2 linked regions of the Homo sapiens genome follow. The protein of the gene in region 1 interacts with the protein of each later gene in a pairwise test. Each region holds a gene or a part of one and is shown on either strand. Other genes may lie near its edges. The genes, in order: MARK2 and KIFAP3.

The links.
Region 2: the proteins of MARK2 (region 1) and KIFAP3 interact in a two-hybrid assay, tested with the Homo sapiens proteins (one large-scale study listed by BioGRID).

Annotation. Positions count from the first base shown.
Region 1 is NC_000011.10:63,890,949-63,894,769, reverse strand, and holds part of MARK2 (serine/threonine-protein kinase MARK2), read right to left. Parts: intron 1-3,821. UniProt on the Homo sapiens protein: Serine/threonine-protein kinase. Involved in cell polarity and microtubule dynamics regulation. Phosphorylates CRTC2/TORC2, DCX, HDAC7, KIF13B, MAP2, MAP4 and RAB11FIP2. Phosphorylates the microtubule-associated protein MAPT/TAU.
Region 2 is NC_000001.11:170,064,375-170,068,195, forward strand, and holds part of KIFAP3 (kinesin-associated protein 3), read right to left. Parts: exon of another isoform or gene 3,130-3,821; intron 1-3,129. UniProt on the Homo sapiens protein: Involved in tethering the chromosomes to the spindle pole and in chromosome movement. Binds to the tail domain of the KIF3A/KIF3B heterodimer to form a heterotrimeric KIF3 complex and may regulate the membrane binding of this complex.

The sequences.
Region 1 (3,821 bases):
CATAACTGCTTCAACGCCCTCATCGCCACCCAAAACTTACATGAACCTTTATTTTTTATTTATTTATTTTTTTGAGACAGAGCTTTACTCTTGTTGCCCAGGCTGGAGTGCAATGGTGCGATCTCAGCTCACCGCAACCTCCACCTCCCGGGTTCAAGCAATTCTCCCACCTCAGCCTCCCGAGTAGCTGGGATTACAGTCATGCGCCACCACGCCTGGCTAATTTTGTATTTTCAATAGAGATAGGGTTTCTCCATGTTGGTCAGGCTGGTCTCAAACTCCTGATCTCAGGTGATCCGCCCGCCTTGGCCTCCCAAAGTGCTGGAATTACAGGCGTGAGCCACTGCGCCCAGCCATAATAACTTTGTTGGGTAGAAACGTAGTAGCCCTTCCTGCATGGAAGGACTGCATGGCCGAAGTCGAACCCGAGTCTCCCGCGTAGGAGACGAAATTTCTGCCGCTGAACTACGAATGCCCCACTGAACCTTTGTTATTTATCACTTTACATTTATTTGCCATCTCCCCCAGTAAAAATGGAAGCACATGAAAGCAGGCATATATTCTTTATTCACTGATACATCCCAGCACTTAGAGAGACTGGCTTATGTTTGCTGCTCAATGAATACTTGTACAATGAAAGAACTGAACGATTAGGTCTGAGCAAGGCAGCAGTCTGCCCTGCTCTGCCACCCGGCTCAAATGAGGGGATGAGGAAGCAGAAGCTACAACTACCAGCACTGAAGAGGCATATAAACATAATACGGGTTGAATATCCTTTATCCAAAATGCTTAGGACCAGAAACGTGGCAGATTTTAAATTGTTTTGGATTTTGGAATATTTGCATATACATAATCAGATATCTCAGGGATGGGACCCAAGTCTAAACATTTATTTTTCATGTGTACATTATATACATGGCCTGAAGGTAATTTCATGACATTTTAAAATAATTTTGTGCATGAAATAAAGTGATTGAATTTTGCTTATAACCTGTCATATGGGGTTACGTGTAGAATTTTCCACTTGTGGCATCATGCTGGCACTCAAAAAGTTTAGATTTTGGAGCATTTTGGCTTTTGGATTACGGATGTTCAACCTGTACAAAAAGGGTATGGTCTAGACAAAAAACATACATCTATGTGAAGACGTGTACATTCCTCAAAGTGCTAAACACAGACTATATGAGCCAGCAATTCCGCTCCTCAGTATATACAAAAGAGAAATGAAAACAGAAATCCACAAAAAACCTGTAACCAAGGTTCACAGCACCATAATCCATAATAGTCAAAAAGTGGAAACAATTCAAATGCCCATCAGCTGGATGAACGGATAGACAAACGTAGCATATCCTTACCGGGGAATATTGGTTGGCAGTAAAAAAGAATATATGCTACAACACAGAAGAAACTTGGATAAACTTATGGTATCTCACTAAAACTGTTCAGAGTCTAGGCCAGGCAAGGTAGCTCATGCCTAAATCCCAGCACTTTAGGAGGCTGAGGCAGGAGGATCACTTGAGGCCAGGAGCTTGAGACGAGCCTGGGCAACATAGGGAGACTCTGTCTCTACAAAAAATTAAGAAATTAAGAAATCTTGGGAGGTTGAGGCAGGTGGATTGCTTGAGGTCAGGAGTTCGAGACCAGCCTGGCCAACATAGTAAAACCTTGTCTCTACTAAAAATACAAAAAATTAGCTGGGCATGGTGGATTACAGGTGCCTGTAATCCCAGCTACTAGGGAGGCTGAGGCAGGAGAATTGCTTGAACCCAGGAGGAGGAGGTTACAGTGAGCTGAGATCGCACCACTGCACTCCAGCCTGGGCAACAAGAGTGAAACTCCGTCTCAAAAAAAAAAAAAAAAAAAAATTAAGAAATCAACTGGGTGTGGTGGCATGCACCTATAGTCCCAGCTGCTCTGGAGGATGAGGCGGGAGGATCGCTTGAACCCAGGAGGAGTTCGAGGCTGCAGTGAGCCATGATCATGCCATTGTACTCCAGCCTGGGTGATAGAGCGAGACCCTGTCTCAAAAAAAAAAAAAAAAAATGCAGAGTCTGGTCTAACTCCTGATTAGCGCCCTGGTTTACATCTCACAAAGAACATCTGGAGCGATCGCTCCAGCATACTGCAACAAAGCATATGAGGCCAGAGCCTCATCCCAGAACCATCCAGAGCTGCCTTGGAAACTTCAAGGAAACAGTCTGGAGGGCAGCAGGGTGACCAGAGGAGTGTGAGTGAAAGTTCTTCCTTTCATGGCCCCTGCTGGCTGTACGTGAAGCACTCAAAAACCACAGAGAAAAAAAGAATGACTTGCTACTACCCAAGGAACTGTCCAGCATTCCTAGACAAGAAGCTTGCTAGCTCAACCAGATGCTTTTCAGGCAGAAACGACAGCAGCAAGTTAAGTACAGTATCCTGATTCTGACATTTCCCCTTCTTCACTGTGCCCACGTAGGGCCTTTGCATGGTAGCTGCAGGCTGTCTTTTGGTGAGCTGTTTGACCAGATCCCAGAAACACATGGGGTTGGACCTTGGAGGAGGAAGATCCCATGCATTTGGTAGATGTTTGAAGGGGGAGGCTCCTCACATCCCAGAAGAGGCCCTTTTAACTTCCTTCTCTCTTCCTCATCAACCTTTGCATCTCCATGAAGCCCCCCAGCTCTTATTGTCTGCTCATTCCAGCCCACAGAGCTCTCTGGTGCTCTGTTCTCCACGCACCCTGTAGCTCACCTAAGCCTGGTTGGTCCTCAAACAGTGTCTGCAAGACAAGTGGATTTTTAAATACCTGCTTTTTTCCCTTCCAAAGGAACTCTAGGGTTCACACCCCTTGGAGAGAAGGGCATTTCTAGGCCCTGCTGGCACCTGATTGGGCCAGCCTCCTGAAGGGTACCCTAGCCCTGTCCAGCAGGGTACTGAAAGCCTGGTCTCCTCAGGCTACCTTTTTCTCAGCCCCATCCTCCCTTTCAGTGCTGCTAGACTGCCTCCAACCCTACCCATCTGCCTAACGGGCAATGAACAGGAAAAAACCTTCCTTCTGCCCCAACTCCTACGAGAGGAAGATGGGTGGGAAAGTTTCCTTGGCAACCTCTAGTTCACCTTCTAAGTTTGTTGTCACTCCCTGTTTCTCCGAGGATATAAGCCCAAGGCAGCAGGAAGTGTGACGGTCTCTAAGTTCTCAAAATCCAGACCAGGGATTTAGCATCTACCTGCAGACTTGGGCCTTTTGCCAACTGAGACCAAATCTGGGCATCCCATGCCCATCCTGAGCTCTGCTCTGCCCATCCCTCTTGGTGAACCGAGGGGCTGGTCTGTGTGGCACAGCAGGTCAGCATTCCCTGCCTGGCCCTGCTGCACAAGTGGGCCTCAAGGAGCTTAACAACCACAAGCAAGATTGTACCATTCATTCTCTTCCTTTCTGGTTAAGACTGTAGATGTCGGAGATAAGCTGCCAGGTTTCAAATCCTAAATCTGTCACCTACTCAGCACATATTAACTTTATTATTATCATCAACATCATCAAGCCAGGCACAGTGGCTCATGCCTTTACAGGCAGCACTTAGGGAGGCAGAGGCAGGAGGATAGCTTGAGCCCAAGAGTTCAAGACCTGCTGTTCACAAAAAGGAAAAAAAAAAAAGAATATATTTAAAAAGGCAATACAGTGAGACCCCCATTCACAAAAAGGAAAACACACACACACACACAAACAAACACAAAAAGCCCCAAAATAAAACAAGTGTAACATCAACATTGTCAAGAAGGAGGTGAGACTATTACAAATGGGGAAGAGAACTACCCAAAAAACGACCAGTGGCCAATACTGCCAG
Region 2 (3,821 bases), on another chromosome or scaffold:
AAAGGGTCTCACTCTTGTCACCTAGGCTGAAGTGCAGTGGTGTGATCACAGCTCACTGCAGCCTTGCCTCCCAGGCTCAGGCAATCCTCCCACCTCCACCTTCCAAGTAGCTGGGACTACAGGCATGCACCACCATGCCCAGCTAAGTTTTGTATTTTTTATAGAGATGGGGTTTCAACATATTGCCCAGGCTAGTCTTGAACTCCTGGGCTCAAGCGATCCACCAGCCTCAGCCTCCCAAAGTGCTGGGATGACAGGCATGAGCCAACACACCTGGCTAGTTTCCTCATTTAATATGTTTATATCATAATTCCCTTTTATTTATGGCTTTAGTTTTTTCCTTAAATCATGAATGTGTAGTGAATGTCATCAAATGTTTTTCTGCATCCATTGGAGGATCATGTATTGTTCTTCTTTAATTCATAAATATACTACATCAAATTCATTAAATACATAAAACCATACTCATATTCTTAGAATAAGCACAACTTGTTAATGCTGTCTTAAAGCACTGTTAGATTAAATTTGCATCCTTGCTCATTCAGCCTGCAATTTTCCTTTCTAATGTCCTTTTTCTGACTTTCATATGGAGATTATTCTAAAATCTTAATATAAATTAGTTGAGGAGTATCCTTTTTTTTCTAGACTTCTTGGAAGAGTTGTACATAATTGGAAGCATCTGTTTCCCAAAAATTTTGTTAGAATTTGACTTTAAAACTGTCTGGATGTAGCAGATTTTATCAGTATGAAATACTCCTCTGTAGTTTTTACAGTATACGTTTTCTTAAAGCCTATTTTATCTGACATTAATATGGTCATTTTAGCATTCTTATGCTTACTGTTTGATTGCACCCATTTACCATTAACTTACCATGTCCATACTTAAAAGTATATTTTTTGGGGATGACAGATAGTTGGGTCTTGCTTTTCTTTTTTCTTTATAAAAGAAATATTGGTGGCCGGGCGCAGTGGCTCACGCCTGTAATCCCAGCATTTTGGGAAGCCGAGGTGGGTGGATCATGAGGTCAGGAGATCGAGACCATCCTGGCTAACATGGTGAAACCCTGTCTCTACTAAAAAATACAAAAAATTAGCTGGGCATGGTGGCGGGCACCTGTAGTCCCAGCTACTTGGGAGGCTGAGGCAGGAGAATGGCGTGAACCCGGGAGGCGGAGCTTGCAGTGAGCCAAGATCATGCCACTGCCCTCCAGCCTGGGCGACAGAGCAAGACTCCACCTCAAAAAAAAAAAAAAAAAAAAAAAAAAGAAATATTGGTAATCTCTGCCTTTCCATTGGAACATTAAAACCTATGCTGTCTGATACAATAGTCACTAGCTACATGGGTCTATTTAAAATTAAATTTAAATACATTACATTTTAAAAATAATTAAAAATGCAATTCCTTAGCTGTACTAACCACGTTCAAAGTGTTCATTAGCCATACAGCCAGTGGCTATGTATTTGATGATGCAGCTGTAAGTCATTTCCATCAGGGAAGAAAGTTCTATTGGACATTATTGTTTTGGATCATTTAATGCAATGACTGACATACTTAGATTCAGATCTATCACTTCATTTTTATTTCCTGTTTGGCCCAACTATACTTTGATTATTTTCCTAACAGCCTTGTGAATTATTATTTTTTAAATTCCATTTTGTGTAGATGTTTTCACTATACTTTTAAAAACTGTTTTTGGTGGTTGCTTTAGGAAAAACAATGTTTTAGTTACCTTTTTTTTTTCACAAGGTATTTAAGAATTAATGCTGTGCTACTTCACAAATTGCAGGTCTATTGCCTACACCCCCCCCCCCATTCTTTATGTTATAGCTGTCATATGCATTATGTGTACATACCTTATAAACTCACACAAAAATTTCATAATTTTTGCTTTCAAGTCATATGTATTTTTAAAAAATTAAGAGGGAAATAATCTCTTATATGTACTCAAATATTTATAATTCCTGATGCTTTTCATATTGGTAAAACCAAAACAAGTTTTATATTTCTATTACTAACATTAGACTTGGTAATAGAGAAACAGAGGATTAAGGTAATTCAAACCAATGCACCTTCTAAGAAAATCTTAAAAGCTGGGGGCAAAAACACGTATGTGTGTATCTGTTTGAGGCCATAAGAGAACTAAAAAGGCACAAAAAATTACAGTGCCAAGATCCAGGAGAAAAAGAAAATGAAGAGAGGTAAATCTTGAATTTGAGGCTACTTTTCCCTAGAGGTATCTGCTAACTGAAAAGAGAGGGCTGAGAGGTTGAGAATCTTTTAATAATCACATGAGGCTAGAGACACAAAAACTGGATTCTAGAGTGCACCAAACAACAGTGGCTCTGGTAAAGCTCCAAGCTTTAAGCTTGAAACAGGAGGACTACCTCCTAGGAGTAACTGTGAAACAGATGCAGATCGGTCACCAACAAGACTAAAAAGCCCAGTTTAATGTAATTGAATCTCTGAGAACTAATTAAGGTGACCCTAAATTTTCAGTAATCCTTACTAACATAAATAAAATATAATCTTCTCTGGAAAAAGAGAACATCATCCTGAGCCTCAAATGATTATTTATACATTTATATTCCTATATATGATACTCAAAGAATAGTCATCTTCAGAAAAAACTAGATAATTTTTTTAAATTTCTAGAATTAAAAATACAATAACCAAAATTAAGAATAATAATAAATAAATAGGTTTAATAGCAGATTAGATACGGGTAAGGAGATAATTTATGGCATAAAATATAAGTCAGAAGAAAACACCCAGAATAAAACATAGAGACAAAAAGATGTAAAACACAAGCAAAAGTATAATTCAGCAATGCATACTGAGTAGGTCTAGCATATGTACTTGAAGTCCCAGAAAAAAGGTGAGAGAGAATGGGTACAGAGCAATATATGAAAAGATAATGGCTAAGTGACATCAGTGAAAACGGCAGAGTAGGGACCTCTAGAGGCTGGCACTCCCCAGAAGCACTAAAAACTTGGCAAAAAAAACCTATCACAATCAACCTCATCAGAACTCTGGAAGACAGTCAAAGGTTTACAGCAACCAAGTGAATGTTTAATCAGAAGAAAGGTTACAGAAACAAGGTAGGCGATCATTATGGTCTTTTCACTTACCCTAGACATCCACCCCACTCTCAAGCACAGTGGCAGTCTTCAAGATGGCAGCCCACGTTCCCACTGTTAATACTTGGTTCTAGAGGAGTCAAGTGGACCTTGCTCCCAAGGAATTTTGTCTGATTGTTTTGCAACTGACTGAAGTTTCCTTTGAGGTCAGCTGCAAGGGGCTTTCCTTTGTTTTGACTAATTTTAAACTCTTATCAGGATAGTGCAGCTATGCAGTCACTGAAATCAGTGAAAGCCAAGCATACAAGCTGCTGGCCCCTGGGATAAATAGTAATAGCTGGGTCAAACAAAACACAAGCTGAAAGCCCAAGAGGAAAGTCCAGGGAGTCAGACATTTTGGGGGAATAGATGCTTTGAAAAGCTATTGCATATAAAGAGAAATCTAGAAATCCATGAGCATGCTCAGGGCAGAATACATACCCAGAAAAAACCTGGGAAGATCATAAGCTTTTACCTCTGGCTGGTCTTCAGGCTCTGTGCAAGCAGCAAATGAAGGCTAAGGTAAAATTGTAAATTGCCTGGCTAAGTGTTGAAGCCATATCCAAACACTGAGTCAACCTACAAAGATCTGAAGAGTATTTTTTTCTTTTCTTTTTTTCCTTTGGATACCATAATATTCAAAATACCCAGTTTTCAACAAAACAAAATATGAAACATGCAAAGAAACAAGAAACTCATTCTCA